3 separate regions of the Homo sapiens genome follow, and all the other regions are linked to region 2. Evidence: fine-mapped expression QTL. A gene starts in region 2. Each other region holds a variant in brackets. All regions are shown on one strand. Distances are from middle to middle.

Region 1 (2,660 bases), 44 kb before region 2:
GGCATTCACTTCCTAAGGTGAGCAAACAAAATGCAGATTTGGCAACTGCCCATTTAGACTAGCCTCTAAATAATAAGTTGCTTTTTGGTAACCATTTTGAAAAAGCTTGTTTGGTACCAGAAACTATATACTATATAGAGGTCTGTGTGTGTGTGTATATATACACACACACACACACACACACACACACACACACACACACACATATATATAAATGTGTATATATATATACACACACATATATATAAATGTGTATATATATACACACATATATAAATGTGTATATATATACATATATAAATGTGTGTATATATATATACAAAGTATATATAGGGATATATATAAATTATATAGAGGTAATAAGACTGATTTTTCATTTTTCTTCTGAAACTGCTTTACTTCACATTTAAAATTTTGCATATAAATTGGAAATCCCAACTAAAGAATAATTAAAAGTTATCCAATATAAAATTCTAAAATATATTTAAATGAGAAAAATAGCTTTTGTATCACAATTTATTCAAAGTTTATCAGCATAATTTAATGACATTTCAGGTTAAAATTAAAATGAGTATAAGAAGTTATAGTCAAATATTTATTTGTATTAGCAATTCAATAAACAAACAGAAGCTCCATCACTTTTAAGTAGTATTCATTTAGAGGAGTAATAATTGTTTGGATGGGAAGGTGGTGAGCTTAGTAGCTCTTACATGGTGTTCTCCAATCTACAAAAACTTTTTTCCCCTTCAAACAACACATAATAATAAAGCTAACAATTATATAGTGTTTGCCAAGTACCAGATACTCATCAACATACTTTACAGATTTGAACTAATTTCAACCACACAATAACCATGTGAGGTAGATGCCATCATAAACTCCATTTTGTTAATGAGGGGCCTGACACAGAGGGCTTAGGAACTTGTCCAAAGCCACACAAATAAAATGAAGCAGAGGTGGGATTTAACCCATGCACATTGACTTCAGAGTATACACACAAATAAAAAGCTGTTTTGTTTCTCCTGCATAGCAAAGTAATAAACAGTACTATCAGGTGGGAATGGGTAAAATTTACATTTGAATAGGGGTTTCGTTATCTCAAAGTTTTGGAAACAATTGCAACAAACATTGTACTGGCAGTTCTGTTTCAGTTTTCTTTTTTCTTACAAATTTAAATTAAATTTCTTTTTTAGAGATGGGACCTTGCTATGTTGCCTAGGCTGGCAGATTTGCACTCTTGGGCTAAGTGACCCTCCTACTTCAGCCGCCCCAGCAGCTGGGATTATAGTAGTGCGCCACCCTGCCTGGCTTAATTTCAGTTTTCTTAAAAAAAAAAAAAAAAAAAAAAAACTAGCATGCCTGTCATTTTATTTTGCCTACTGGAAACCACCAGTTAAAACAAGAAGAAAACAGGAAACCTCCAGTTAAGAGGGTTTTAGAAAAGTGTATTTCAGAAAAAAAA[G/A]TTGTACATTCAAAAGAGTGGTTGTTTCCTTTAAATTGTTACTGATAACCTACAATCTCACTTTAGCAACATATCTGTGTGTATTTATGTACGTGAATATACTTGTGTATGTATGTATTATGTTATGCACATTTTCTCAATGATGAAAAATTTTTGTTCTCTGAGAATGGACTTTATCTGGCGATAATCAAAAGCATTATGAGCTAAAATGGGTAGATGATGTAGAGTTGGGCGATATTAACTTGAAATAAACAGAAGTTTTGGCTAACAATAATAAAATGGCCTTTTTAACATTTAGTTACCAACTATGCATTTACTTTATGAAACAAAGGATCCAAATATCTTTGGAATCTAATTCCATTAGAAGGTAAGGCTCTCCCTCCTCGCCCAAGGTATTTCTGCCTCACTTCACTGGGGTAATAGGTGAGAAATATGGACTGTAACTTCTTTGTATATGGACTCTATACTGTGTTCTAGATTATGCAACACTAGGTACATACTGTGGTAAAAAGAGCATCCTCGTATGTAATGCTATAATAATGTAGACATTTTAGTCACCCAGTAAAGTACTACCTTCATAAACAGTTCATCAGAAGAAATTTTCATTTTTATACTTGAATGAAACTCAATCTTCCTTCATTCTCACATTTTTGGGGAAAAAAATCATTTACCCACTCCAACAGTGGCTGAGATCCATTTGCTATATGAAAATGCACTCTTTTCTCAGCATGATCTCTCCGCTGTCCGATAGACGCGTTCTCTTAACTACTGCTGCCACCTGCTGGTTTTGTCATTGTTAGATTTTAGAAAAAGCAGTGCATAAGGCTCCAGTCAAGATGATGCAAAATGCAAGTATCATTAATAGGTAGTTTTGTAGACCCTGAATAAGAAAAAAGAATAACAGTGATGAATAAGGCCTGAATCAATTACACAAAATGGACAGACTCTCAAGATTGCTAGGGACCTAACCATCTGCTCTAGCCGCCTGTACCCTTTTTTGCTACCCCTTCCAAGTAATCAGGTTCTCACAAACCCCTGCAGAGCCTTATGAATTCACCCATTCCGTAAATAAATGTGGGCACCCACTAAGCTTCAACATGTACCTTTATGCAAACAATCATATAATATGGGAGACAGGAAGTAATCACAGAAAAGAATGTTATTATGTGAGAGGGGTGTTAATAATAAAGCAAACCAC
Region 2 (2,820 bases):
GGACTTTCTTAAAACAAAAACACATTGCTATTAAGAAAACATCCTCTATAGGGATGTGGTTGAGGAAGACACACTGAGGCACATTTCAACATTGACACATTAACACTATTCAATAAAAATAATTATTATTCTACTGTTAGGCTCAAAGAGAGGTTCAGCCCTGCAGTGACTTACATGGGTTATGGCTCAAGGGTCAGCTGAGGCAGGTGCTTGCTGCTAAGATAACAGAGGTGCCAAGATAACAGAGGTGCAACAGGTCAGAGATGCAGGAAGTGTCTTGAAAAGCTAACCTATGACTAAAAAGACACATGACTGGGTGATAGCTAACACATCATTTTCTCCCCATTTTAATTCACAACAAGCAAAGCAAAACAAAACCTTTATGTGTACATTGATAGAAGAGAATGTCTAACCTTCAAGAGTGGCAAATTATTTTATTGAGAAGGCTCCACAAAGGCCCTACACCTCTGAAACGGAGAGACTAATTTGACGTGCTAATTAGAGTGCATGAGGTGCATTTCGACTACTGAATAAACATCAATCAGTTATTACCTATAGATAAATGAAGTTTATTGCATGCAGCTCTTGTACATTTCAGAGCATGTGATCTTATTTCATTGTGAATTGGCAATAACTTACTGTCTTTAAAAAGGCTCTACCGCTCTCTAAAATAATGAAATTTTTGTGGAAAAGAAAAGCAGTATCACTCCATCCAGCACATTTTTCCCAATTCTTCCTGCACAAAACCTAAAAAGTCTCAAACATTATTTTAATGTTTTCTTTTCAGCGTTCGCTGATATTTTGTCAAACTATATTAATTCATTTTTATTTTATTACTTTTGTTTCATTTATTAGTAAATACTTCTCCTTTACATTTTTCCTAGTAATTTAAACTTCTACGCAGACTTTGAAAAAATTCGTATTTGGTATGTTCTGATCAATACTGCTTGCTCCACTCCAACTAAAATTTCATTTTTAGTTTCATGTTGATTTTCCCAAATCTCCAGGCAAGTACCGCCTGTCTTTGGGCTAAAATTAACAGTGCTTGAATGTATTTATTCCGAGCCTTGATTTTTCTTTTTAACCATGAGCACGTTTCTGAAAAATCATGAGACGCTCCCCTGCAAAGCGACTTGGCTTTCCTTTGAGTGGCTGTACTCACTGCGTTCCGGGCTGGCGGCTGAAGCTCCTTCCTACTCAGCGCCGGCGCGATCCGCCCACTACGTGCCAGTGTGGAGCCGGAGCCTGACTCATTCCCTCTACGTGCTGGGGGCGGCCTGGCCAGCCTTTACTTTCTGCGGGGACAATTTCCCATACACCGGCCGGGAGGAGAGGGGAGGGCTCTAGCACCCGTGACCCAGACTCCCGTTCCCAGGGTGCTCGCGAAGAGCGCCAATCCAGCCTTGACTTCCTGCTGGGACGTTTACCTCCACTTAAGGAGGGTGGAGAAAGGAGGGCTTTAGCACCGGTGACCTAGAGGCCTTCATAGGACAGCAGGTTGGGGAACGCCTTCCTTCAGTTGCTGTGCTGGACTGAATTGTCAGGTGGCTCAAAAGGAGTCGTCAAGCCCTGGGTCGGTCAACCAGGAAACTAGAAGAGTTTTGTGTATTTCAAGAGGTGATTATTCAGGAAACTCTCAGCATGTCACCCTCTCTAAGTGTCACAGAGGGAGGTATTATTTGTGCAGTTTATGGATAAAACAAAAGTCTGAGGAATTTCACACCATTGTAAAAGATTATCTCAAGTGAATTTTTCCACTTGGTATTAAGAAATTCATCTGCACCACTGACGTCATTAACATTTCTTGTGACATTACAAGATTTCACTTGTAATCACTAATTCTTTGTAGATGCACCTAAGCCATTTATCTGTACAGGCCATTTATCTGTATTTTTTTTTTTTAAGACGGAGTCTCGCTCTCGTCCAAGCTGGAGTGCAGTGGTGCAATCTCGGCTCCCTGCAACCTCCGCCTCCTGGGTTCAAGCGATTCTCCTGCCTCAGCCTCCTGAGTAGCTGGGACTACAGGCACCCACCACCACACCTGGCTAATTTTTTTGTATTTTTAGTAGAGACGGGGTTTCACCGTGTTAGCCAGGATGGTCTCGATCTCCTGACCTCAGGTGATCCGCCCGCCTCGCCCTCCCAAAGTGAGGGAGTCCTCTCAAAAAAAAAACAAAACAAAAAAAACATCTCTTCATGTGGGTTCGCATACACCAAAGGATGCAAACTTTAAGTTGGAAAGGGGAAGTGTAGGTTCTGTGCTAGTCTGAGTTCAAAGAAGCCTTCTCTGAGGAAGTGCTATTTAACCCGAGACCATCCAGTGGTTGGTAATGGGTGTAGCATTCACAGGAAGGAGAAAACACAAGGACTGTTAAAATATGACATTTCCTAGAAGGAAGTTCTGCCTTAAACATTAATCACATCCATAGACTATCATGTCAGATGAGCAGATGGGAAGGCAAAATAACATTTCATTTAAAGAATTAAAGCAGCAAAGCTTTTTCACTTAAGGAAGAGGATTAATTTAGCAGTTCAGAAAGATTTTGAAGAAATCAGTTCCCCTTTCCACACATGCACACCTAAGACACACACACATACACAAACTTGCTTCCAAAAATATAGGGCCTAAATCCAACCTAGAATTGTTTCACTTCATGGTCACAAGATCATGTGGTTTATTCTTGCTTCACTCACATGGAGAAACTGAAGCTTGTGTCAGCATTTGCTGAGAATTTCTAAAGTCTAAAAGTGAGTTGGGGGCTGAATTAGGCCTGAGAAGATTCATTAGGGATATGCTAGGCCATTGCCTTTTACATTATG
Region 3 (2,820 bases), 200 kb after region 2:
CATCCATTGAGAACATTATGGATTTTTTCTCTCTGTTTTTTAAATTTTATTATCGTATATTAAAATTTGGTTTTAAAGTTTGTTTGTTTTTTTTTGTTTGTTTGTTTTCAGATGAGTTTGGGCGCATTCAGGGCAGTATGACCATAGCCTGGTTTTTTTATTTTCAGAAACAATGCCTTTAGTCCTTTAATTTCCTCTCTACTTGCTCATCTGACATGTGTTCATTGCTCTCATTCTCCTGCTTCTCTAAATAATATTAAGTAACAGAAAATGTGCTATTTAATAAAATTAAAATGAAGTTTATTAACATATTTTTCAGAATACTATATATATTCTTAATATTTGTTTGTGTCCAGAGAATTTTTACTTTAATGTAATATAAACCTTAGGACTAATTGAATTGGAAGTATATTCTAAAGGCTACTTACTCCACCATTCTATGTTAACTCACAAACTATATAACAGAAAAAAATCATTTTTTTCTTTATGATAAATCTTAGATTAATTTTGACAAGCTCAGCATGACAATCAAACTTGCTGTACAACTTTGATTTATGTGAAAACACACACACACACATACCATCCATCAACTCTTAAAAATTTCTTCTGATTGATTGGCTAGAGAATGAAAGATTTACAGAAATATATTAGACAAAAGAACAAGCTATGAAGCTAAAATACTAATTACTAATGACAGAAGGGCAATAACATTTATTGGGAAAAGTATCTCTTCCCCTGAAGCATCTTAAAGGTTGTCTATTGATGGCTTCAGTGCTTTTCAAGGGTTAAACAAGACAATCAAATTAAATTCATATTTGCATATATGTAAGTATGGTTGAACAGTATAAATAATGCCACCTTTATGTCTAATAAATTATACTACATGAAAAAGATGGACTGCTCATCATCAACATATTCTAATTAAATCTCTTCTGTGAACTGAAGTGTGCAGTTCACAGTATGCATGAAAGCTTTACAGGCTTTCAGTTTCTTAAAGCATTTGAGAAGGATCATAAAACTGTAAACAAACAGAGTCCTCTCTAAATAACCAACTTAAGTCTCCTATCATAATTAAAATAATTTTCTAAAAGCACATGATCCAAATTGAGCCAAGAATTAATTTAAAAAATAAACAGAAAATAAAATAATATTAAATATGAAACTGAAACTATCTACAAAATCACCTAATAAACAGAAATATGTTATATGATGACAGTGAAGTTTACATATTCTTCCCACTTTGCTAGAGATCAGTGCTTGTAGGGGAAGAAAATTTGAGAATTATCAGGATGA[T/C]ATTTCTTCTTATTTCACCAGGTACATGTTAACATCTCAGTTTTCCTAAACTAAATGTATGCATTTTTCATTATAAAGTACCTTTACTCACTTAAAGCTTCCAGTTAGCAGAAAGTTCATTTCTATGTGGCTTTGGGATTTGTACTCTTTATTTGGGCTAAAACCTTGTGAAGCAAAGACAGCTGAGGGGAAAGGACAAGAAGCTACATGGAATTCTTCACCTTAAGGCTGGAGTCAGAGAGGAAGGGAGTGCCAGCGACCCCAGACGTGTGTCAAGGTGTTCCCCTGCCAGAGACTTGGAGCCAACTCCAGCCACTACCTGGTGAGATACTGTACTGCCACTGCAACAGAACCATCTCCAGGATCCACTTCACTTCTTTACAACAGCTTGCTCTGTGACAAACCCAGTGCCTAATCCTACCTCCCTGCACAAAGAAGATGATTCAGGTGCACACTCTTTGCCAAAAACTTTAATATTGACAGTAGTCTTTATGTTGTGTTTCAGTCCCACTGATAAGTGCAGGAGGCAACTTGAGAAGAACTGATTGTGTATAAACTAGAGCCTTGGTAAATATATCAGAATATCAACACTGTTATAGCTGGAAGGCACTGGCTTCCAAAAGTCTTGGCCACATCCCCTAGAGGGGCACAGGAATGATGCAGGGGTGGGGAGGGGGCACTAGGATGGGGACCACAGAGAGTTCTGCTGTCTTTGGGTTCCACATGTCAAACAAGCACCAGCTACAAATGACAGTTCCAAAAGACTCAGCATTGGTACATTGGAAAATACCCAATAAATGTGGTAAACATAAAAAAAGTGAAATTTGACCATTTATCAAAGTTATTTGTGATTATCAAAACAAAACCCCCCAAATTTAAAATGGCCATATTTAAACCATAGACTGTAGTGACTGTACAGGCTGCAATGATAGTGAATGAATATTTTAAATTCAGTTCTGGTGACAACTATGACCAAAGGTGATATTTTCTAAATTTATTCCTTTAGAAAATAAGTGATACAATTTCATTTGTTTAATTTTTTACAAAGGTAGAATTCTTCATAATCGGGAAATGCTATTGCCTTTTATTCTCTAAGAGTTAAGCAATGGCCATAAACTTCAGTTCTATTTGATCATTTGTTCACATCTGCATGTTAACAGGTTGGCTTGTGATGAACCGTATTCAGCTAAAGCCACCGAAGTACTGCAATATAGGGCAAAACAAATCATACAGTGTTTTTAGTGGGCTGTCAAGATACTTCACGTTTTTTTCAAGCATTTTCTACTGCATTATATAATGTTTCCTCTAGATATTTCAAATATTGCACAGTGTAAGATCCCCATATTCACTCTTCTCAAAACAGACCTTGGCAGGCCAGACATGATGGCTCATGACTGTAGTCCCAGCACCGCGGGAGGCTGAGACAGACGGGCGATTGCTTGAGTCAGGGAGGTCAAGGATGCAGTGACCCATGATCACACCATTGCATTCCAGCCTGGGAGACAAAATGAGACCCCATCTCAAAAA

The links. PIP is the estimated chance that this variant, and not a neighbour inherited with it, causes the effect.
Region 1: its variant is fine-mapped to the expression of TMEM144 in lung (TOPMed, PIP above 0.99). The same link has a PIP of 0.9 or more in fibroblasts and nasal epithelium.
Region 3: its variant is fine-mapped to the expression of TMEM144 in whole blood (TOPMed, PIP above 0.99).

What each region holds. Positions count from the first base shown.
Region 1 is chr4:158,253,126-158,255,785 of GRCh38, reverse strand. TMEM144 (transmembrane protein 144) reads right to left here. Exons shown (of 13, transcript NM_018342.5): 13 at 370-2,342. The coding sequence ends at 2,259. Among named protein-coding and RNA genes, the nearest start is that of TMEM144, 44 kb to the right of the region's middle. The variant G/A (reference allele first, on the strand shown) is at 1,463.
Region 2 is chr4:158,208,929-158,211,748 of GRCh38, reverse strand. It overlaps TMEM144 (transmembrane protein 144), which reads right to left and starts at 1,263. Exons shown (of 13, transcript NM_018342.5): 1 at 1,163-1,263; 2 at 175-296. RefSeq lists enhancers at 1,331-1,420, 1,321-1,875.
Region 3 is chr4:158,010,446-158,013,265 of GRCh38, reverse strand. All of the region lies in intron 1 of LOC105377509 (a long non-coding RNA gene), which reads left to right. Among named protein-coding and RNA genes, the nearest start is that of GASK1B-AS1, 160 kb to the left of the region's middle. The variant T/C (reference allele first, on the strand shown) is at 1,294.